Linked DNA regions of Homo sapiens. The protein of the gene in region 5 interacts with the protein of the main gene of each other region in a biochemical or structural test. Each region holds a gene or a part of one and is shown on either strand. Other genes may lie near its edges.

The links.
Region 1: the proteins of PDZK1 (region 5) and TNRC6B interact in a test that uses a peptide from one of them, tested with the Homo sapiens proteins (one large-scale study listed by IntAct).
Region 2: the proteins of PDZK1 (region 5) and ADRA1D interact in a test that uses a peptide from one of them, tested with the Homo sapiens proteins (one large-scale study listed by IntAct).
Region 3: the proteins of PDZK1 (region 5) and SORCS3 interact in a test that uses a peptide from one of them, tested with the Homo sapiens proteins (one large-scale study listed by IntAct).
Region 4: the proteins of PDZK1 (region 5) and BPIFA2 interact in a test that uses a peptide from one of them, tested with the Homo sapiens proteins (one large-scale study listed by IntAct).
Region 6: the proteins of PDZK1 (region 5) and MTNR1A interact in a test that uses a peptide from one of them, tested with the Homo sapiens proteins (one large-scale study listed by IntAct).
Region 7: the proteins of PDZK1 (region 5) and GHRHR interact in a test that uses a peptide from one of them, tested with the Homo sapiens proteins (one large-scale study listed by IntAct).

The regions. Positions count from the first base shown.
Region 1 is NC_000022.11:40,184,425-40,187,924, reverse strand, and holds part of TNRC6B (trinucleotide repeat-containing gene 6B protein), read right to left. Parts: intron 1-3,500.
Region 2 is NC_000020.11:4,239,288-4,242,787, reverse strand, and holds part of ADRA1D (alpha-1D adrenergic receptor), read left to right. Parts: intron 1-3,500. UniProt on the Homo sapiens protein: This alpha-adrenergic receptor mediates its effect through the influx of extracellular calcium.
Region 3 is NC_000010.11:104,647,790-104,651,289, reverse strand, and holds part of SORCS3 (VPS10 domain-containing receptor SorCS3 precursor), read right to left. Parts: intron 1-3,500. UniProt on the Homo sapiens protein: Plays an important role in modulating synaptic transmission and plasticity in the hippocampus, probably by affecting the trafficking and localization ofAMPA-type glutamate receptors in the postsynaptic density.
Region 4 is NC_000020.11:33,178,159-33,181,912, forward strand, and holds the end of BPIFA2 (BPI fold-containing family A member 2 precursor), read left to right. Parts: coding exon 1-70; intron 71-1,445; coding exon 1,446-1,509; intron 1,510-2,361; coding exon 2,362-2,402; 3' UTR 2,403-2,439; intron 2,440-3,065; 3' UTR 3,066-3,254; downstream 3,255-3,754. UniProt on the Homo sapiens protein: Has strong antibacterial activity against P.aeruginosa.
Region 5 is NC_000001.11:145,679,869-145,683,368, reverse strand, and holds part of PDZK1 (Na(+)/H(+) exchange regulatory cofactor NHE-RF3), read left to right. Parts: intron 1-732; coding exon 733-869; intron 870-2,261; coding exon 2,262-2,457; intron 2,458-3,500. UniProt on the Homo sapiens protein: A scaffold protein that connects plasma membrane proteins and regulatory components, regulating their surface expression in epithelial cells apical domains.
Region 6 is NC_000004.12:186,533,155-186,535,861, forward strand, and holds the end of MTNR1A (melatonin receptor type 1A), read right to left. Parts: intron 1,404-2,707; coding exon 535-1,403; 3' UTR 501-534; downstream 1-500.
Region 7 is NC_000007.14:30,970,453-30,973,952, reverse strand, and holds part of GHRHR (growth hormone-releasing hormone receptor precursor), read right to left. Parts: intron 2,835-3,500; coding exon 2,737-2,834; intron 1,991-2,736; coding exon 1,858-1,990; intron 1-1,857.

The DNA.
Region 1 (3,500 bases), on a different chromosome or scaffold from region 5:
TTTCTATCTTTACTGGTTATCACTTAGATGGTCTAGTTAACAGCTGCAAAGCAGTCTCAATCAATGAGATAATTAAATGAAAATCTTTGAACCTGCTTTTTATAAACTGAAAAAACCCACCCATATTTAGTAAATATGCGTTCAATTGGCCCAGGTCGGCAAAAAGTACACAATGACTAAACGGGGCTAAACGGAGAAAAGTGAGATAAGAAAAGTGAGAGACAAGCACAACATAATTAGCCTGGTGGCACCCTCTCCCACCTCACACCTCCACCACACAGGGACGCTGGGACACTGACTTAAAGCAATCCTAACTTCATCCCCCCACCTGAAGCCACCACCTCACTGACTCCAGGGAGTGCAAAAGAAACTCACAAACAGTAACAGGAACGCTCCCACCCCTCCTGCTGGATCTGTTTTTAAGTGTAAGCCTCTGCACCAAGCATTTCAGAAACATGGCACAAACCGGTATGTTTAGGAACTTCTACCAATGTACCATTCTGCTGACTGTAGCCCAAACACTATTTCAAATTTTGGAATCTGTGTATTTTCATAAAAAGTTTGTCTCCTCACATTCAAAATTAGAGATTTGACCCTTCTAAATTCTAAAAATTCCACTAGGATAAGCCAACATGTATTCTAAGAAACACTAATCCTGTGAAATGCTTTGCGATGGTGCTAAACCATTTTGGGTATTTTCAGAGTGCACATCCGCTGTACAGTAGCCTATTTTACTTCGCATAACCCTCCCTGTGCTGTCCAACAGAGTAGCCGCACGTGGCTACTGTGCACTTGCAATGAGACTAGTGCCACTCAAACTGAATTTTTAACTGTATTTTAATTAATTTAAATTTAAAAACTGACATTTCCATTGCTGGAAAACTTTTTTATGTTTGGAAAAACGTGGGTATGTGAACCTACTTTTCCATGAAAAAGTAGTAAGTTTTATGAAATCTAAAAGCAAATCAAGTATTTCCAATGAAAATTTTATGTTTGAACTGAAATGTGTTGTAAGCCTAAGATACACACCAGGTTTCAAAGTCTTGGTACAAAAAAAACGTAAAATGTTGCGTTAACATTTTAAAATCAATAATATGTTGAATTAACAATATTTTACATAAATAAAGTCGATATTACTGAAATTAATTTCACTTATTTCTTTTTATTTTTAACTTTTTTTTTTTTTTGAGATGGAGTCTTGTTCTGTCACCCAGGCTGGAGTTCAGTGGCGTGATCTCGGCTCACTGCAACCTCAGCCTCCCAGGTTCAAGCAATTCTCCTGCATCAGCCTCCCAAGTAGTTGGGATTACAGGCATCCGCCACCACGCCCGGCTAATTTTTGTATTTTTAGTAGAGACGGGGTTTCACCATGTTGGCCAGGATGGTCTCGATCTCCTGACCTTGTGATCCGCTCACCTCGGCCTCCCAAAGTGCTGGGATTACAGGTGTGAGCCACCGTGCCTGGACTGTTTACTTTTTTAATGTGACTCCTGGAAAATTTAAAATAACACACGTGGCTTGCATTCTGTTCCTACTGGGCGGTGCTGGCGCCATCGAATGATTCCCATACCAACACTGGAACACCTCCCAACACCAGGTTCGGGAATGTTGCCATAACCAAATACTTTTCTTCCTGTGCAGCATTTGAACTGCTGCCCACACCTGTGATCGAACAGTTCTTCCCTCATCTTCTGTGATGAGGAATGACTGTCCTTCAGAGCCACCGTTCTTTTTATCCTTTCCCAGGTCCTCTTTCTCTTCCCGTCCCCAAGGTCTCATTCTCAGTTCTTTTTTCTATTCTTTACAGTCCCATGGTGACCTCATCCTCTCCCTTACCTTCGACTATCACTTCCACGTGGAAGCCTTCCAAGTCTTTATCTCCACTTCTGACCTCTTTCTCAAGCTGCAGATCCACACTGCCAGCTGCCTGCTAACCAGTTCCATTGCCAAGTCCCACCAAATTCTCCAATTCAGTAAGTCTGACCTGGAATGCGTCATCTTCCTTTTGGTTGAAGATTCCCATCATTCACCTTAAAAACCTGGTCCCTAGTTGCATGGCCATAGCCTTATAGCAGGACCTTTCATAACAGTCCTTTTATCCCCTAATTGGCCTGCCTGTCTCTCAATTCTTCCTTTAATCAGTGCCCCCCCACCAAGTCCTCCTCTGCACCACTGCCATATCAAAATTCTCACTGCACTGCCATCAAATTTTCAACAGGTCCCCACCGTCTACCATAGCAATACAAACTACTCAGCAGGCACTCAGCTCCTGTACACGTGTGCAACCTCCCCTCAATCCTCCCTGGACACACCTAGTCCTCCTCCACCTTACTCTAGCTAATACAGCCTGCCATGAGTCTACTCACCACCATTCTGCCCAATCTGTAGGGTTCCACTCAAATACAAAGTCCTCAACAAAGCTTTCTCTGATCAACACAGTTAAAATCAGTGTCTCTCCTCCCTCAAACTCCTTTGGTACTTCTAATAATCATTATGGTAATGAGAGTATATGGCCTTATCTTTATAAAATAGTACAGTATTCCCTTAATAGCACTGAACAGCACCTTGCACTGCATAGTACAGGTATGCCATCTTTGGACACCTTACCAAAGAAATCAACTTAAAAAGGAAAATCTTGCCAGGTGTGGTGGCTCACACCTGTAATCCCAGCACTTTGGGAGGCCGAGGTGGGTGGATCACAAGGTAAAGAGAACAAGACCATTTTGGCCAACATGGTGAAACCTCGTCTCTACTAAAAATACAAAAATTAGCTGGCCGTGGTGGCACATGCCTGTAATCCCAGCTACTCGGGAGGCTGAGACAGGAGAATCGCTTGAACCCGGGAGGCAGAGGTTTCAGTGAGCCAAGATTGTGCCACTGCACTCCAGCCTGGCGAGCAAGACTCCGTCTCAAAAAGAACAAAAAAAAATTTGGTAAATTTGGAACTACTGGTAACTCTTAAGTCTTTATCTCCAGACCGGACCTGTAATTACTCCAGCCTTTCACCTGGATATCTCAGGATTCAATGATTCCAAAACTGAACTCATAATCTCAACCCCACACCTGTGCCTCATCTAAATGCACCCTAACTCAACGAATGGTGGCACCATTCCCACAAGAAGCCAGGCAGAGACACAGGTGTTATTTTACATTTCTCCAACCCCATCTTCTCATACCCAATGACCAACTCCTCCAAAATCTTCCTAAATGCCTCTGGAACTCATTCATTTGTCCCCAACTCTGTTGTCAGTTCAGGCCACTATGACCTGAGATTACTACAGTATCATCTGGTCTGACGTGCAATGTCCCAGCCAGTTTCCACAACACACCAGAATCGTCTTTCAAAAATCCAATCTGAACAAGTGACTTTCCCACTTAAAACCCTTCAACTGTTCTCAGGAAAAAGACTTTCAAACGTGGCTTATACACTCTTCTGCATCTGGTCAAGGCTTAGTTTTTCAGCTTACCTCTCATTTCTCAGATTATTTCTTCCCTTAAGC
Region 2 (3,500 bases), on a different chromosome or scaffold from region 5:
GGGCAGATCACCGAGCATCACTGACCTCCACCTTCCAAATGCCATCCACTCAAAGCAGCCCGGAGACTCAGAGCCCAGGGCCCCCCTCAAATGCACCTCAAGGCATACAAGCTGGGCAGAGGCTCTGATATCAGAAGTCCCAGGACAGCCCAGCCAATGTCCCACTCCAGCCATCTGTGAGCCACACCTGAGCCTCTCTCCTATCTTGTGAGTCTGTGCTCTGTGATAGTGCCTGTGTCGCTGACCACCCCCAGACTTAGATGTCCCATGTGCTTCTGAAACACTCTGCATGTACTTTTATCACGATGCACTGTAACTGTCAATATTCAGATATGCATCATGAAGTGTGAGGGCAAAGGGAACTACACACACGTAGGCACAGGAGTAGCAGTATTGCTGGGTTGCTCTGTGGTTTGGGAGACGTAAAACGTGTAGCCTATGAGAAGAGGGGTCAAGAGATGAGGCCAGATGCCATCTGCAGGAGAATGGATAAATAAACCATGTATCCATAGACTGGACCACGGTACAAGGAAAAATAGCAAACTACTGATGCACACATGGATGAATTTCATGGATGTTATACTGCGCAAAATAAGCCAGGTCTGAAACTCAAGGTGTACACACCTTTTGATTCTGTGTAGATGAAGTTCAAAAACAGGGGAAACTTATCAATGGTGATAAAATCCAGGATAGCGGTTACCCATCTGTGTGTGTGCAGTGAGTGTACTAACTGGAAGAGAATGCTAGAAAACTTTCTGAAGGGCTGGGACAGTTCCATACCTTGACCTGGGTAGTGATGACATTGGTGCATGCATATGCAGAGCCATCAGGCTGTGCTGTGTGCTTCAGATACACACGCTTTCTAAATTTGACTGTCTACATGTTATGCCTTTGTTACAGTGAGAGAGAAGGCAGGAGGAGGCAGGGGGGAGGCTGTGAGCCCTGCTTAGTAATTGGTGTCCAGGCTGGAAGGCATACTTTGGTGGCCCCGTGCGGAGAGTGGATTATGCATATGTCTGAGAGTCGGCCAGGTGCTAAAGGACTCATCTCCACAGGCTGCCTGAGGTTGTGCAGGGGTCTGTGGATGAAGGGGAGAGGCAAGGGATGCTTTGTGCTAGGTCTTCAGTAATGGCATCATTGTCTCCCGGCCCAAAAGCCTGAAGAAAGGGCTGGCATTACATCTCCTACCTGTGCTTTGTGGCACCTGGAACATAATAGGTGCTCAGTAAATGTGTGCAGAAGAAGGAAACGGTAGAACCCATGTTCTATTCCCATCCTGCCACACCAAGGGTCTGGGTGGCAAAGCACAGCCCTCCATTTATTTATTATTTTAATTTTCTTTTATTGTGGCAAGAGCATATAGCATGAGCTCTACCCTCTTAACACACTTTTAAGTGTAAATATCATATCATTAACTACATATCATTAACTATGGATACATATCATGTGATACTGTTGCACATCAGACCCCTAGAACTCATCTATCTTGCCAAACTGAAACTTTATGCCCATTGATTAGCAATTCCCAATTTCCTAGCGCCCTTTCTCCCTGGAAACCACCATCCCACTCTTTGAGTCTACGCATTTGAGTATTTTAGAGACCCCCATGTAAGTGGAATCATGCAGTATTTCTCCTTCTGTGACTGGCTTATTTCGCTTAGCATAACAGCCCTCTATTTAAAGTCAACTCTCTTTACTTGTTGTGGGTTGGGGGTGAGTCCCCATTTTTGTGGCCTAAAAAAAAAATCTTTAACAGGACAGTTAATATTTATTGAGTAATTACTATGAATAAGCAATGAGCTAGGGTTGGGTTTTTTTCATGTTTTTAACATGGAAAGTTTCAAACACATACATTGATAGAGAGAACCCTGTTAGTATAATGAACCCCTGTGTACCTGTGACCCAGCTTCACCCCAAAGCTAACCTAGATTCTTTCCATCCTCACCCACTGTCCCATCACTGTAGATTCTTTTGGATTTTTGTTTGTTTGTTTTTTGAGATGGAGTCTCTCTGTCTCCCAGTCTGGAGTGCAGTGGCGCAATCTCAGCTTACCGCAACCTCCACCTCCCGGGTTCAAGTGATTCTCGTGCCTCAACCTCCCAAGAAGCTGGGATTATAGGTGTGCACCACCATGCCCAGCTAATTTTTGTATTTTTAGTAGAGACGGGGTTTCACCATGTTGGTCAGGCTGATATCAAACTCCTGACCTCAGGTGATCCACCCACCTCGGCCTCCCAAAGTGCTGGGATTACAGGCATGAACCACTGCACCCGGCCACTGTAGATTATTTTGAAGAACATCCAGATACAGTATCCCTTCATCTGTAAATCCTTCAATATATAGTTCTAGAAGATAATAACTGTAAAAAAAAAAAAAAAAAGCCCACAATCCATTATAACACATAAAATCATTTAATATCATCAAATATCTACTTAGTGTTGAAATGTTGCTGGCTGCCTCGTAAATTTTTGGTTGGTTTGTTTGAAGCAGAATCCACAGAAGGAGCACACGTTGCATATGGTCGATTTGCCTATTAGGTTTCTTTACTCGGTAAGCCTCCACTGCTTTTTTTTCTTTCCATTTATTTAGTGAAGACACCAGATTGTCCCCAGGTGTATCCTGTAGTTTGGAGTTTGCATCTCCACAGTGCCATTTAATGTGTCCCTCTGTTCCCTGTACTTCCTGGGTGCAGATTTGGCCTGGAAAGAATTCTTCTTTTCTGTGGTGTCAAGATTGACCAGAATTCATGTGCTGTCAGCCTGCTCTGTCCATTACAAAGTGACCCATCGGCCTTTCACCTGCTGGTTTTGGCAGCCATTGACCATGGCCTGGACCCATTATATCACTGGGGCTTGAAGTGGGGATATTCTAATCCTATCATACCTCCTTCATTTATTCACTAGCATTCTAAAATGATTTCACCACTAGCTGTTTGGTTAAATAGAATCTGTACAGCAAAGGCAGGGAAGATGTTCAATATTCCTCTTTATTTATCAGAGGAAGAGTCAGTTCTCTAGCATTCTTTCCAGACGTGACCACTGAGGCTGTTTGAGTACCATGGTAATGTCATTATTTTTAGACATCCTTGCTGTTCCAACACATCACAGACATCATTGTTTTGGGCTTGGCCAGTGGGTACTCCTTCCAGTTGGCTTCTGAGATCTTTGGCAGAACCTGGAGCATCTTGAGCTCTTCTTTGCTTTCTGATCTGATAAGATGCTTCAGGCTCAGCTTGCATTTTTTCTGCCCTAGACCTGGAATTAGCCATTTCCCTAAAGAGCCCTAGTCTGTTTCAATGGAAGATGACTGAGCTGTTCATTGATACTGAGTTGGTCACTGATTCAATGGACAGATCTAGGAAGTACATTTTATTTTCAGTAGAAGAAAAACACAACACTGATGGGGACTTCTGTCCTTGGACATATATTCCTCCTTCCCCTCCCCTGAAGATCTTGTCCTCTGCCCAGCTCCTGCTGATATGTTTGTCCCAAACATCTGAG
Region 3 (3,500 bases), on a different chromosome or scaffold from region 5:
GCTGTGGCTTAGGGACCTTCTCATGACAGAAAAGACGCTTTAGAGTTTTGAGAAATCTTTCAAACAAAAGTTTGCTTTCAAGCATGAATAACACTGAAAGCAACACAGTGAGATAAGCAACTCTTTCACCACTAAGGATACCCTCCTCTTCCACCACCACTCTGGAAAACAAGTTTATCTGTGTCACCAGCTTCATTGTCTCAGAACTCTTATTGTAGACAAGTTCCCCCACTATGTGTAATCACATTCAGATATGGCAGCTTGAGCTATTTTTCTAGTCTTGAAAATGTTCAACTCAGTCATTGTTCTTCATCTCCCACTGAGAACAGATTTTTAAAAGAAAAAGTTTATTTCTTATGCAGCAGTGTAATCTGTAACCTGATTCTAACCATCTGAATGAGAAACTGCCTACCTCACCATAGATGTCAAAAAGGCTTCTGGGAGGATGTCAGGCACGTGGGACCTGAGAGCCTGTGAGAGACAGCCGCAATGTCCCAGAGTGCAGATCCCAGGCCAGCAACAGCAGGCCAGACACTACTCCATCCCCAAGACACTTGTTCTTTACCCAGGCACTTTTAAGTATTTAAGCAAGTATTTATTCTGTTCAACTCAATAAGCACCTATTGACTTAACCACCAGATACAAGAGAGCAAGGAAGCAAAAAGGAAGGAAATACAGAAGCAATGGGAGAACCTAGCCTAAGCATCACTTCCAGCTGAATCTATTTGTAGAGTGTTAGTTTGGTCATTAATGGTCTGAGTATCTAACTGCTGAATGAACGTGTTTGTATCTATTCCCCTTTTTTCTGTAGGAAGAGGCTGAATGATCAGCCCCCCCCAGGATTGAAAACTGTCCTGCTGCCAAATGATTATTCATCTATGGATCATCATACAACCCCTACACAATTCACTTACAGTCTACTTTTCATCTTCCCTCCTTCGGAACAATTCCTGGTACAGCATTGTCTTGTTATTTCATCCTATTTATTTTCACTTCTTTCCCAGGGCAACACTCCCTCTAGTGTCTATGTAGGGCTCTCAGGTTCCACTCTTGGTACACAGGGTGAAGGCAAAAAGGGAACTCAAGCCTACAACTCTATGGGTATAGATCACCACAAAGTAGTGGATTGTACCAGTGTGATAATTCTGGGGAACAGGCTGCAGATATTCTACAGATAGCTCCAATCCATGTGATATGCCCATTTCACAACAGGCACAAATACAGAAGAGGAAAGGAAAAATGTAACATTGAGGTCTAGCCCATGACTTTGGCATACATGAGTCTTTGGCACAATGGGATCTGCTTGTCAACCAGCCCCAGCAACCCAGTGTTCTCCAATGTTCTAGTAGCTACACACTTTACTCACTTCCCTCAAGAAGTCTCCCTTGATTAGCTGTGAGTTGTATCATGGATGCCAATTCTGAGAGAAGCTACTCTTCATCTTTCTGGATCCCTTAACTCTCCATGCAATAAAAGCCCCGAAATAATGTTAAATTTATTCATAGCTTATTAGTGTAATCATCTAATGAATATTATTCTGTTTCTACTACAAATTCTGAGTATGAATTTCAAGAATACAGGTCCCCAGTCATTCACTTCTAGATCCTTTTCAATGTCTACTTTAGCACGACATAAAAGATAGACATGGCAAAGACTCATTGACTGGGGACATGAACTATGGGAGGTGGTTGAAATGAGCATCTTGATGAGAACTGGGTTCTAGCCAAGGCCTTGCCATCAGCTCACTGGGAAACCTTGAGCAAGTGCCTCCTTCCTCTGCTTCAACATTTCCATCTGAAAATTAAGGGAAGGCCCCTTCCAGATATAAAAATAACAACTAAACTAAAGTATCTTGAGTGCTTGCTACAAATGGGTCAGGCACTTCTTTTAAGCACTCTGCCCTGTACAGTCTCACTTAATTCTTACAACAGCCCAAGGTAGAGATACTATATCATCACTCCCTTTTTTCAGATGAAGAAACAGCAGAGAGGGTAACAACTTGCCCAATGTCACACAGCTATTAAGAAACAGAGGCAGGACTTGAACCCAGGCACCTGGCTGCAAAATCCATTGATCTTATTTAGTATGTGGCCTGTTTCAGGTTCCCAGTCTATCTGTTCTCAACAAATCCAGAAGAGGATTGCATTCATGATGAAATCTCTCCACAAATATGAATTCACACAAGTTGTACCATATACCCATACTAAATAATCCCACAACCCAATATAATCCTTGATTATCCTACATAGCTTTATTTCCAGTTTTTCCCCTAAAGAAGGTTTTTTCTCTTTCCAGTGCATGCCAAGTAACAGTCCCCTACTTAGCCAAGGGCACAGTTTTACTGACCAAGAACCCTGCTGGCCCCACTCTGCTGCAGGTCCCTCTCATCTCAACCAAGCAGGGATGGCTTCCTCTGATTCCCTGCATGCACTCAATAGCAGAAAACAATCTGTGCAATCCTGAGGTTCTTAGACTCCATTATTTTTTCCAAATTTACTATAGAACATTTATTAGTGTACTATAAACAACAGTATTTCTATAAATAATTAAATCCAAACTACACTGATCAAAATAAATGAGCAAAATATTCCTGGTTGTGATGTAACCAGGCTTGATTCACTCACTAACTCAAATTACAAAGTGACTCACAAGAGGCCCCCATTAACAATGGTTAGTAAGATACAGCTTGTCCAACATTAACTAGCTTGTTATTCATTGTCTGCAGCCACCGCGGTGGGTGGGCAGGTTGACTATAGAGTATGGCCCCAGAACAGAAGGAAAGAATCTATTCCTAAATCTCTCTAACTAGCCTCATACGATACCCATCCTGGGGCCTCAATCTATCCTACCTATAAAATGGGCACCTCATCAGAGTGAAAACACACAAATCCTCTTAGAAGGAAAATGCTCTGTTAACCTGAGAAGAAAGGAGAAAAATGGGTGTGAAGAGGGGATGGCTCTTCCAAGAGAAAAAAAAATAAGCAGGGTCCAAGGCAGGCTGCCATGTTTCTGTCTGAGCCTCATATCCTCATCTCTATCATGAGTGATTTGATGAAGACAATTCCCAAGTGCACTTCCAGTCTTGACATTCTGCAAGTCTCAAATTCCTGTAGTATGTCCCACAGGGATCCTCTCTTCTGCGAGCTCATAGCCTGAAACGATCACTTGACAATTAACCACATATCACCCCATGGCATCTGTCTTGTTGTCATGTGTTATTTAACTTTACAGAAGAGCAGTCTCACATCCAAAGCATGTCGGCAGGACCATGAGGCAAATGCTGTCTTATCCTTCTTTGTCTCCTCTCTATCACACTTCTACCAACCCCACAGTTTCTAGGACAATGCCACATACACAGGAAACACTCAGAAAATGGATGAATGTCTTATGGGGGTGTCCATCTGATCTCTGAAGTCCATGAGAAGCCAGGATTGTTAACTAGTCCTTATTTCTATCCTCTTACTAAGTAGTGTAGAGACCCCTCTGAATCTTATGTTAAC
Region 4 (3,754 bases), on a different chromosome or scaffold from region 5:
CATCAACAAGTTCGTGAATAGCGTGATCAACACGCTGAAAAGCACTGTATCCTCCCTGCTGCAGAAGGAGGTGAGTCTCCCACTCCTTGGAGCCCAGATCCAGGCCTGGTGGGGGCAGGTGGGGGAATTTGCAGGCCTGGCTGTATCCTCTGAGCACTTTTCCTTCGGAGGTGAAAGCTTCTCCTTAGGAGGTCAGCTGGAGCTTCCTCCTCTACTAATCAGCCTGGTGGGTAGCAGGGTAGAGCAGAGGCCTGACATTAGCTGAAATTGCCAGGTCCCAAACTTGAGCCTCTCACCATATCCACGCACTACCAATATGCTTTTGTAGCTAACATCTTCAACACAATTTTACTTAAATATGTTTCTTTAGAAGCATTTATTTTTAAAAATAAAACTTTATATCCCTATCATAAATAGAAAATTAATATCACATATCATACAATCAATGGACTTATAAAATAGTTTTAATTTTTTTTCCATCTGTGCATCATCCAAAACCATAGGTACCATGTGCAGGATTACTAGGCCCAAAGTTGCAGAGATTCTAAATCAGTCATTCTGGAAGCAGACCCAGGAATGTGGGTTTATAAAAGAAAAATCCTCCGGATGGCTCTGTGACCCACTGAACCGGAGTTTAGTTATATTCCAAAAGCGATCCTCCACCAGCTTCAGCCTCAGCTGGGTGCTTGATAGGAATGCGGAATCTCAGGCCACACCCCAGACCTGCTGAATTGCAATCTGCGGGGAACTGTGTACACACAGGAGCAAGAGATACTCCGCTCTACAACCTCAGGGCAAATGCCTCAGGGCACCATTTGACCCTTTAAAATTCCAGGGTTCCAAAGTTCAACATGGGAATGTTAACAATCTAGAATGTAGATTTTTGAGGTCCTAGAATTCTAGTGTTCTAAGGTGTTAGGATTCTAACACCCTAGGGTTTCCAGATTTAAGACTGCTGGGATCCCATTGTTCTAAAATCCTAAGGTTCAGGCCAGGCGCGGTGGCTTATGCCTGTAATCCCAGCTCTTTTGAAGGTCAAGGTGGGCAGATCACTTGAGGTCAGGAGTTCAAGACCAGCCTGGCTAACATGGTGAAACCCTGTCTCTACTGAAAATACAAAAATTAGCCAGGCATGGTGGCATGTGCCTGTGAACCCAGTTTCTTGAGAGGCTGAGGCAGGAGAATCACTTGAATCTGGGAGGCGGAGGTTGCAGTGAGCAGAAATCGTACCACTGTACTCCAGCCTGGGCAAGACAGTGAGATTCTGTCTCAGAAAAAAAAAAAAAAATACAATAAAACAAAATAAAATCCTAAGGTTCAAAGATTCTAAGATCCCTAGAAATGAGCTCATCTGTGGGTGGCAAGCAATTTGTTCTCAGCTGAGAAGAATGATCTGTTCTTCCTCCTACTCCTGACCCTCCTCTTCCTCCTTTCTCCGCTGTCAGATATGTCCACTGATCCGCATCTTCATCCACTCCCTGGATGTGAATGTCATTCAGCAGGTCGTCGGTAAGTCAATGGGGAAGTGGGGACCTTCTGAGGCAGGCATGGAGCTCTGTGCCCACCCCATAAGCAGTTCTGGTCAGGGGACCCTGGAGAAGCAGAAGGACCCACTGTCCTAAGCAAATTGGGAGCCATGGCTTCCCCTCCACAGGCACCCGGGGGCTCCCTTTGGCTTTTGGGTCTACAGGCATGGCTGGGGTTGCTGGGGAGAAATGGAGTAAGTAAAGCTGTCAAGACCCTGGAGGTGACCCTTCTATGAAAATAGCCACAAGTCAGCCAGGCGCAGTGGCTCACACTTGTAATCCTAGCACTTTGCGAGGCTGAGGTGGGCAGACCACTTGAGTTCAGGAGTTTGAGACCAGCCTGGGTGACACGGTGAAACCCCATCTCTACTAAAAAATACAAAATTAGCCAGGCGTGGTGGCATCCACCTGGAGTCCCAGCTACTCGGGAGGCTGAGGCGGGAGGATTGCTTGAGCCTAGGAGGCGGACATCGCAGGTAGCCGACATCATGCCACTGCACTCCGGCCTGGGTGACAGAGTGAGACCGCAATCTCAAAAAAAGAAAAAAAAAAAGAAGAAGAAGAAAGGAAATAGCCACAAGTCCAGTCCCTTAGGCAGTCACTTTGTGCTCTGTACACACTATCTCACTGGATCCTTGCAACAACCCTGTGGGGAAGGTACTGTCATTGTACCCACTTTACAGATGAACAAACTGAAGCTCAGAGAGGTGGAGCAACATCCCTGGGGTCCCACAACTGTCAGGTTACCGGCTGGAGAGCGGCATCTTTTGGAGTCTGGTCTCTATTCAATTCCAGTGGCAGAGACTAAGGCCTGCTATTGATTTTGTTTCTTCAGATAATCCTCAGCACAAAACCCAGCTGCAAACCCTCATCTGAAGAGGACGAATGAGGAGGACCACTGTGGTGCATGCTGGTGAGGAGCCAGTCTCTGTGCCCCAATGCACAGGGGCCTATGGTGAAGTAAAAGTCAAGCGTGGCTTCCCTTATTTTTGTGTTAGAAGACTGTGCCTTCATCTCAGTCATAGATTGAGCCCTGGCCCCCATCCCAGGCTAGGCCCTGATTCTGGTCACACTCTGAACACTGAGCCTTAATCACTGAACTCTGATTCTGGCCCCAGACTGAGCCTGGATCCTAGTCACAGACTGAGCTTTGATGCCAGTTATTGACTGAGCCTTAGTCTTGGTCACAGAATGAGCCCCAACCTTGGTCTCAAATGGATATCCATGATTCTGATCACATATTGGGCCCTGAACCTGGCTCCAGTAGTGGCCTCAATCAATCTTTTCACATCTACCATTGTTCTGAAGGAGGGTGAGGGGAATGAAGATGAGTCAGTGCCAGGTGCTAATGAAAGACCCCAAACCACAGGTGCCAGTTTCTTCTTCCCAGGACTTAAACCGCATGGGGTATTGTGGGAAAGAGCTGGGACACTGGAGCCAGGTCAACTTGGGTCCCATCAAGTGCCCAGTGGATGACTGACAGCTGGGTGTAAGGGCAGCCTAGCAGCAAATGTCCTAACCCCCTTGGTCTCATTCCAGATTGGTTCCCAGTGGCTTGCCCCACCCCCTTATAGCATCTCCCTCCAGGAAGCTGCTGCCACCACCTAACCAGCGTGAAAGCCTGAGTCCCACCAGAAGGACCTTCCCAGATACCCCTTCTCCTCACAGTCAGAACAGCAGCCTCTACACATGTTGTCCTGCCCCTGGCAATAAAGGCCCATTTCTGCACCCTTCTGTGTGGCTTGTTGCATTCCCTCCATTTGGGATTTGTTGGTGGGAACTGGGGAGGGAGGTTGGGGGCTGCAACTAGGGTGGGAGAGACCTGGATCCAGAGCTAGAAGGCTCAGTGGGAATATCCAGCCACATCTCCTGGTTCTATAAAGGGGGCCACTGAGACAGAGAGGGCAACAAACTAGCCCAAGTCACACAGCCAATCTGTGGCAATAGCAGACCCCTGATCTATCCATTCATGCATTCAACAGGTATGTAGTGAACACCTACTCTGTGCCAGACAGGCAATGGGAACTGGAAAGTCACATTCTGGGGACAGCCCCACCCAGCACTTTCCTCCATTCCTCTCCAGGGGCCCTGAGGATTCTTGGAGAATCAGGGGACACCTAGCCTGACTGGAGTCAGGAGTATGAGACAGAGTGATGCAGGGTCAGAGGCCTGTGGCCCCATCTCCACCTGCCCTGTTAGCCCTGCTGCCCTCTAGGGGTCCCACTGGA
Region 5 (3,500 bases):
ATAATGCAGTGTGGGCATGTTTTAGCGCTTTCTGGTTCAAGGGGCCAAGGCCACCCAAGATTCCATCTTTGCATTTAGCTGACCTCAGAAATTCTATTCAAATCAACAAATACCCACTGAGTAAAGGCTGTGTCAAGTTCAGTGCCAGGACCTATAACTGTGATTTTAGATCAGAAGCCAAAGGCCGAGTTAGCTCTAAAATCGGAAGTTTGTTTCACATTATTGGGAGAAAAGTCTTTACCATTGGATTTCGAGTTTTTCTTTGCAATGGAGTGTTCTGTGAAAGGGTGGTGTATGCAAAGCAGTCCCTCAAAGGCCAAAGGAGCTGAGAAACCAAAGGACAAGGCAGGCAAATCCAGTTTGTTGGTACATTGGAATTTATCAGGGGAACTTACGAACAGAAGCATGGTCTTGGACAGCCACAAAACATGTAGATCTCTGTGTTACTCCCCAGACCCAAGGCTGATATACCATAGGGAAAGGGTATATGTGCTCCAGCAAGACAATCGAAGGCAGCCCTCCGCAATAGCCAAGAATGCTATAGTGCATCATAGCCTATAATTTGCGTGATAACATTAAGGTTGACATGTTCTTAGACTAGGGACAGTAAATGAAGTAGAAATCGGGAGGCAATCACAGGACTGGGGCTAATCAGAAGTCAACATCACAGATTACCATCCAAGAGGGAGTCACTTGTGTCTCCACATGGAGTTTACCCCTACTCTCTTCCAGGTAAAAAGGGGGTGTACATGACTGATATTACACCTCAAGGTGTGGCTATGAGAGCTGGAGTTCTGGCTGATGATCACTTGATTGAAGTGAATGGAGAGAATGTAGAGGATGCCAGCCATGAGGAAGTGGTTGAAAAGGTATGCCCCAAAGGGTACTTTTCTTACCCTATCTTCCACTCTATTCTCATTGGAGGTGACAGGAAGACAGGGGTGGTAGGGGACAGCATGAGTTTATGATGGAAAAAATATCCAGTTGAGTTGCCCCTTCATATTAAGGGTGAACAGACTCACACTAGTGGTATAAGCAGTGTTAATATAGGGTTTTGGAATAAAGCCTTCCCTAGTTTCACATGAGGTCTACAAAATTATTAACTTTACCTTTTGGATCTTGTTTGTATCTGATTGGGAGCCCCCTCTGAACTGTTTGATTGAGACAGGGTCTCACTCTGTTACCCAGGCTGGAGTGTAGTGGCACAATCTCGGCTCATTGCAGTCTCGGCCTCCTGGGCTCAGATGATTCTTCTACCTCAGCTTCCTGAGTAGCTGGGACTACAGGTGTGCACCACCGCACCTGGCTAATTTTTATGTGTGTGTGTGTGTGTGTGTGTGTGTGTGTGTGTGTGTGTGTTTTGTAGAGATAGGGTCTCACTATGTTGGCCAGGCTGGTCTTGAACTCCTGAGCTCAAGTGATCTGCCCGCCTTGGCCTCCCAAAGTGCTGGGATTATGGGCGTGTGCCACTGCGCCCTCTGAATTTACAATAAGTTCACTGTTGAGCCGTTAATACTGAAATGCTTTAATAGGAAGTGGGAGATAACCGAGATTTTCCTTTGAGGTCATATGGAACCTTAAAAATTGACCAACCTTCTCTTTGTAGAATGATTTTTTGACGTGGACCCTTACTTTCTTTTCTTTTCCAAACTCCCTTTCTAGCTTTTATCTAGGTACCTTTATGGGTTTTCTGAATTCCAGCTCCTACTTGGGCTCAGTTAGCACCTATGTGGGTAGGTCATACTTAAATAAGGGAAAACAACTATAGAAGTGGAGATAGGGGCCGGGCGCGGTGGCTCACGCCTGTAATCCCAGCACTTTGGGAGGCCGAGGCGGGTGGATCACGAGGTCAGGAGATCGAGACCATCCTGGCTAACAAGGTGAAACACCGTCTCCACTAAAAATAAAAAAAAAAAAATTTAGCCAGGTGCGGTGGCGGGCACCTGTAGTCCCAGGTACTCGGGAGGCTGAGGCAGGAGAATGGCGTGAACCCGGGAGGCAGAGCTTGCAGTGAGCTGAGATAGTGCCACTGCACTCCAGCCTGGGCGAAAGAGTGACACTCCATCTCAAAAAAAAAAAAAAAGGCGATAAATACATATCAGTTAGCTGGTAGGGCATAGTGTAACAGCTTAAACTCAGGCCTTTCATCCCCTATCTTTTGTTGAACCTAGAGACTGTGTGCCTTTATACAGAAACTTTCTTATTCCCCAGCATTGTTCTTGGGGGTTGATGTCATTCCTCATCTGTGTGTGTTGTTACAGGTGAAGAAGTCAGGAAGCCGTGTCATGTTCCTGCTGGTGGACAAAGAAACTGACAAGCGTCATGTTGAGCAGAAGATACAATTCAAAAGAGAAACAGCCAGTTTGAAACTGTTACCCCACCAGCCCCGAATTGTGGAGATGAAGAAAGGAAGCAATGGCTATGGTTTCTATCTGAGGGCAGGCTCAGAACAGAAAGGTAAGGTACAAGAGCAGGAAACTTGGCAGTAACCAGCAAATTCCTCATCCCATTCTGACTCCAGAGTTCCATTAGGTTCCCAACTCCCAGCCAGATGCATGAGCGGCATAGCATAGAAGGCACAGCTGGGTCAGCGTCTATGTCACATGAGGGTCTGATGTTGGGCATCAAAAGTTTCCATAGCATTATGATAAGGCAGAATTTGGGATCTGGGCAACGGTATCCTGGTAAGTTAGCTCTCTGGGGCGGGGGTGGGGGGAAATCCAAATTGGTAGCGTTTGTTTTTGGTACCAAATTGGTAGTATTTTGTGATGTAAATACTCCTCCCATGTCCAGTTTCAACTTACTAACACGATGTCACTGAACACAATGAAGTGTTGCACAGAATTGGCTTTTGTGAGCCGGTGTGAGCCAGTATAGCACACCGCTGGACCTGAGGCCGAGGTGTGGGTGAGGATTTGGGACTCAGAACCAGGAGTCCTCCTTCCTTGCAACTCAATAGGAAGAACACTAGGTTCTTTCAGGGAAGGTAAATACATAAAAGAACATGAGTTCGGGCCGTATAAACTGCTATTCGCCCATAAGTTGTTATTTTCTTTTCACTCTCTGTTTACATTAATTTATCAAATATTAATTTGGTTTGTGTTTTGTAAAAACATCCTCAGTGCCTTGGAGAAAGAATATCATATGAAGCAGACAGGAATTCTTTAGTGAAGGAGTCTACCATTTAGTAGATAAGAGATATGTCCATAATGAAGGGAGATAGAGGTTAAGTACCTTCATACAGGGGCAGATCAAGCACTGTGATAATTCAACGTTAGAGTAAGCTTTTCTCACTAAAAAGGTACCAGAAGCCCTCATAGTAGGGGTGGCACTTGAGTTCAGGCTTTGTAACATGAATAGATTTGGGAAAGTAGACAGAGCTGGGATAAGGAAGATCATTCCAGGAAGGTGGGAATCATGTGAACACAGTCAGGAGACACTGGCACAGTTTAATTGGCACATGATGTGTAGTACAAGAATTCGTTGGAAAGGTAGGTTGG
Region 6 (2,707 bases), on a different chromosome or scaffold from region 5:
TAACTCTGCCAGCTGAAAGGTTTGTGGTGTTGGTTGTGGTTGTGATTGTTGATGAGCCATTAACTGATTTATGTTCAGCCTTTCCCTCTGTAATAAGAGGCACTCACCCCACTTTCATTGTTTGTTCCATTTACAGAAAAAAAATTGTTCCATTTGCTCATTTATAAATAAAATTCTCTTTCATTTTTCTGCTAGAAGTCTTCAAAAAGTGAAGAAGAATGCAATTACCCCTTTTGTGGCACTCATTTACAATAAAAGTTTGCACACTCCTTCCCCTGAATGCATTCAGCAGCTTACTCTCACCCCAGCCCTGAACCGCATTCCTCAGTTAACATGTAACTCTCCATACATTCTGTACTTCTCTTGACTAGTAGAATTGGAGGGGTTTATAATGCTGACAGCACGTTAGCTCAGAAACTATGGCAGCAGCCAGGTAAAAGTTGGAAGTTTCCTCCACCACTCTGCTTTCCCAGACATCTGTCAAGAGCGAGGCCTTGCGCAGCGTGTCCATCTCACCCGGAACGTGGTGCTTTTTTAAACGGAGTCCACCTTTACTACATTATTGTTGGTCATCAGTGGAGACGGTTTCCATTTAACCCTATCGGCCACGTCGTTAGAGCTGTCCACAAAGAACACCCTGGCTGTACAGAGCGAGACTATAATTCTCCTGTATTCCTTCCTGAAATTTTGGTTCAGTAGCCCGTATATAATGGCATTGAGGCAGCTGTTGAAATACGCCATGTAGTAACTGGCCACAAACAGCCACTCTGGGATCCTAGGCACCATGCTGGCGGGGTCAGAGGCCACGGCCAGGCCAATGAAGTTCAGAGGAGCCCAGCAAATGGCAAAAAGGACAAAAACCACAAACATGGTGACAAAATTCCTGAAGTCCTGTGGTTTCAGTTTGGGTTTGCGGTCAGGTTTCACCCTCTGTCTGACCTGGAGAACCAGGATCCATATTCTCAGGTAACAGAAGATGACTATGATCATGGGGACGAGGAAGTGGAAAACCACCACGGCGATGGTGTAGGCGGAGCTGACGGACTGGGCGAAGGTGCACGAGTAGATCCTCGGGTCGTACTGGAGAGTCCCTGCACGGAGGTTGGGCAGGACGGCCGCCAGCGTCAGGAGCCATATGAGGAGCACGTAGCAGAGGGAGTTCTTGCTGCTGTACAGTTTGTCGTACTTGAGACTGTGGCAGATGTAGCAGTAGCGGTTGATGGCGATGCCGGTGATGTTGAATATGGAGCCGATGACGCTCAGGCCCATCAGGAACCCACTGACTTGGCAGTGCAGATAGCCCAGGTTCCACCCGTTGTTAAATATCGACATCAGCACCAACGGGTACGGATAAATGGCCACCACCAGGTCTGCCACCGCTAAGCTCACCACAAAGATGTTTCCTGAAAGAGAATCGTTTAGAAAATACAGTGAATACCAGTTCACAGTGGGTTTTCTGTTACAATTGTTAAAGAAGGAGCTGCTTCTGCAGCTCCGATGACCTGACGTCACAGCGGCGGCCGCACTGCAAATGAAGTGGAGGCCGTTTCCCAGGAGGGCCAGTCCACTGCCGCTCCTGACACATCGAATCCGCTGTTCACACATTCCCACCTCCCCAGAACAGGGCCTGTTCCATGTTCAAAACTGCTGTCTTTCAAACCGTTCGGCTTCTCATCTCTTAAAAAGTCCTGAGATCAGAATGCTTGCACACCATCTGTTGTTCTGGAGCCTTCTACATCACCTGAGAAATCTCATATGATGTCAAGCCAGCCACAACTTCCTTAAGTTCAAGTCTTCATTCCCTCTGTAGTGCTTCAGCAGCTCTCAGGGGGCCTCTAGCTTCTGTTCTTGCTGATCCCATAGAGAGGGAGTTAAGGGCAAGAGGGATCTGTCGTCAGCCGTCTGGATGAGAACATGGCTTCACTCCTTACTAACTGTCCAACCGGGGCAAGTTACTTGATCTCCCCAAGCACCTGCCTCCTCCCCTGGATGATGGGATAATGAGCAGCTTCCTCTTAGGGCTGTGGTGAGCACGAGATGAGACTATCTGTGGTGAGCGCCATGTACCGTGTCTTACACCATAGAAATGTTCTTATTCTACGACTCCCTCACCTTGAACCAAAGGAAAATGCAGAAATTCTCTTAGATCTTATAAAGAACTTACGTTACAAAACTTAAACCCTAAATAGTCTGTTAATTTTCTCAATTAATATAACAACACATATTTAATTACAGAAAAAAAAAACTCTAGTCACTTTTTTATTTTTATTTTTTTGAGACAGAGTCTTGTTCTGTCACCCAGTCTGGAGTGCAATGGTCCGACCTTGGCTCACTGCAACCTCCGCCTGCAGGGCTCAAGCAATCCTCCTACCTCAGCCTCCCAAGCAGCAGGGACCACAGGTGCACACCACCACACCCGGCTCGTTTTTGTATTTTTGTAGAGACGGGGTTTTGCCATTTTGTCTAGGCTGCTCTCAAACTCCTGGGCTCCAGCCATCCACTTGCCTCGGCCTCCCAAAGTGCTGGGATGGCAGGTGTGAGCCATTGCTCCCAGCTACATTAGTCAAATATTATGAGATGTTCTGCAAATATGTTTTTTTTCTTTTGCGGCTCTTCTGCCTCTGTTTCTTACTATTCCTTCTGCCTCGAATGGCTCCTCACATCAACTTTCTAAATCCTGCCCATTCTCCCAAGTCTATCTCAAATA
Region 7 (3,500 bases), on a different chromosome or scaffold from region 5:
GGACACCCACTGGAGCCCCATCCCAGTCTCCTCTACCCTACTCAGATACAGAACCTCCAGGCCCCTCCATGTTAGGCTGGGACCTGCAGCTCCTTGGGCCACCCAAGAGGGGATGTGGTGATATACAGTGAGGGTTAAGAGCACAGATTTGGTATCTAGACAGCCTGGCTTCTAATTTACTATCTATTTCCTGTGCAAATCTCCTCACACCTTAGCTTTTCATCTGTAAAAGGAAAAACCTCCAATACCTAGATCAAGTCCTCATCATAAGGATTAAATGGAAACTGCCTAAGACTTGCTTCTATTTTCACTTACCCCCATCCTTCCTGAGCTGAAGTCAATCCCTAGAGCTGTGACTTATTCAGCCACAGCTCTGTCTTGCAAAAAACACACACAGGCACCCGTGCATTCACTCACTCACTGCATGACTTGATCACCTGCCGGCAGGGGAGCAGGACCACCTCTGAGTTCAGTTGGCCCAGGTTTGATCCCAGCCCCACCCGTGTGCCACTGGGTGACCTTGCCAACTGTCTCTCCTCTACAAAATGGGATTAAAGTGATGCTTTCTTCTTCAAGCTGTTTTAAAAATTCAAGAGATAATGCCAGCTGACTCTTGAACAACAAAGGTGTGAACTGCTGAAGTCCATTTACACATAGATTTTCTTCCATCTCTGTCACCCCTAAGACAGCAAGATCAACTTCTCTTCCTCCTCCCCCTCAGGCTACTCAACATAAAGACGATGAGGATGAAGACCTTCATGATGATCCACTTCCATTTAAAAACAGCCAATTTTTATTTTCTCTATGATTTTCTTAAAATTTTTTCTCTAGCTTACTTTATTGTAAGAATACAGTATATAACACGTGTAACAGACAAATATGTGTTAATCGGTCATTTATGTTATTGGTAAGGCTTCAGGTCAACAGTAGGCAATCAATAGTTAAGTTTGGGGGACACAAAAGTTATACTTGAATTCTCAGCTGAAAGGGGGGTCAACACCACTAAACCCACATTGTTCAAGGGACAACTACATATGTAAAGCACTTAGTGCAATGCCTGGCACAAAATAAGTGCTCAGTATGAAGTATGATTAATTCTTTCATCAGTTAATTGAGGTCATGTGTTAGTTTGCTCCCTGATTTCGCTGTTCATTTCCAGCACACTTGCAGAGGATCTAGCAGGTGCTGGGTCTCCACATTCTGCCCAACTTCCCTTTAATTTCAATTGCCTCTTATTGTCTCCACCCCATCTCTCCCATGGTGCCTTCCCAGTTTCTTGGACATGGCCCAGGTCCTCCTGTCTTTGAGAGTTTGTTCACCCTGGTCTCTCCTCTTGAAATGTTCTCCTTCCCCATCTCCCTATTGTTGCTGCCAATACAGCTCCAGGGTCCTCTCCTCCCTGAAGCCCCCTCTCGTTCTCTCCTAGCTCTCAGCTTCCTCCACTTGGGAGTCCCCTAATCTGTGTGCATTCTGTCCCATGGGCTCTTCCTGAAGGAGGGACCCAGCTCCTCCCAGCCCCTTGCGTACACACCCCCAGCACAGACCTATGAGTGCTCAGGGAGGGGTGAAAGGAAAGGAAAAGGCTGTGCATAGTGAAACGTGGTCTAGGTTGGACTACAGAACGCGGAGTAGAGCATGCAATATGGGAAATGACATGGATCGACACCACAGTCCAGGAAAGGCGTGAGGACTTAGGGGGTGACATGGGAAAGGAGCATTTTCCTGTTCTGTAATTGGCCATGCGGGAGCCCCAGGGTCAGCCCACAGGGCAGGGAAGCCTGACGCAGGCACATCTGGGTCTGTAATCCTACCTCCTCTCTCCCCCACCTGCCCAGCCCCTTCACCCATGGCCATTACAGTGGAGAAGCTGCAGTGGTCAGTGTCGTCGCTGTGGAAAAGGGCAGCATCCTTCAGGAACACAGCTCCCGCCTTGAGGATAAAAGTGGTGAACAGCTGGGTGTGGACGTAGTTCCGGGGGCAGTGGAGCCTCCTGGGGGTAATGGGAGAAATGAGGAACAAGAAGCAAGCAGGGAGAGGGGATTCTGGTGTGCTGCAACTGGGCTGAACAGGGCAGGAGGTGAATCGAATCAAACTGGATGCAATCAAACTGAATTGAATTGAGCTGAACTTGAGGCTTCAGTTTAACCCTTGCAGGACAGCTGAGCAACCATTCCTGTGCTCAGGGTAAGTGTGGAAAGAGAGGAATATCTGGTCCCTGCCTCGAGGGTGCTCACAGTCTCAGGGAACAGAGGCAGAAACGGCAGGTACTGCCCATGGGAGCCCCCTGGATGATCAGAGACACTCATCCCCATGAGACCAAGAACAGCACAGGCCAGATGCAGTGCTCAGACTTCGAAGGCTGGAGGAGGGGGTGGGGTCTTAAAGGGGACAGTGGTCAGAGAGTTATAACAGTCAAGAGGGGCTCTGGGCAGGAGGCAGAGGACTGTCAGATGCAGATAGGAGCTGGGCTTTCTCAGTTATAAATACACTGAGAACAATGAGGAATTCCAAGCAAATAGAATGAGCACCACGTGAGCAAAGGGGCAGAGGTAGGAATGAGTTCTGGTGTTTGAAGAGATGGGTCTACATGGTGGGGAAAAGGGAAGGGAAAGTTAGACATGGGTATGGCGCCTAGATCTGGGAAGTTCATGGCTATGTAGGCAAGGAAGCAGACTTGACCCTCTGGGAAATAAGGAGCCAAGGAAGGTTCTTGAGCTGGTGATGAGGATGACAAACCTGAGAGCAACCAGGATGGTGATGGCCACGAAGAGGGCTACAATAGAGATGCTATGGCCCACGGTGTAGATAATCTTCACTGTGGAGAAGTAAGATTCCTGGGAAGGGCAGAGACAGAAGAAAGTCTCAGCTTCTGGGCCTTTGGAGGAAAGAGAGGCTTGACAATCAAGCAGGTGAAGCCTTTGCCATTCCACCCCAACACTCCCCATCTGGAGGCAGAGGTGTCCGCGAGTACCATGGAAAGCTCCCCCTGTGCACTGGAGCTTTAGTTTACAGCCTGCCTTCCACCTGACCTGCGGGTGAGGGAGGGGTAGTGGCGAGGAGTGGAGATGCTTAACATTCATGATGCTCTGAGGGTGAGGAGAGGCAGCCGCAGAAACTACATGTCCCTGGGGAATGACAAAAGCCCAAGAGGAAATCAGCTTGTTTATTGACATCCAGCTTGCTCACCAGCTTGGGAACACAATGTATCCAAATAAAGGAGATAGCCAGGGACACCTGGGGACAGCCACAGGCAGGCAGGCAAAAGGTTTCCGTGGCCAAGTGTTTGGATCAGTCAGAGTCCAGCCTGGCCCTGAAGATAGAGGGTGCAGGCAAGGGAAGGGAGCAGGGGCCTGGGCACTGGCCCCAATCCCAGCTCTCCTGTGGGGTCCAGGCAATCACTTCCTGTCCCTGACTCAGTCTTTCCATCTGAAAAATGGTTACAGTCATGCTTTACCTCTCAGAGATCAAGGGGACAGAGAAATGGGATGATGGGTTTGGGA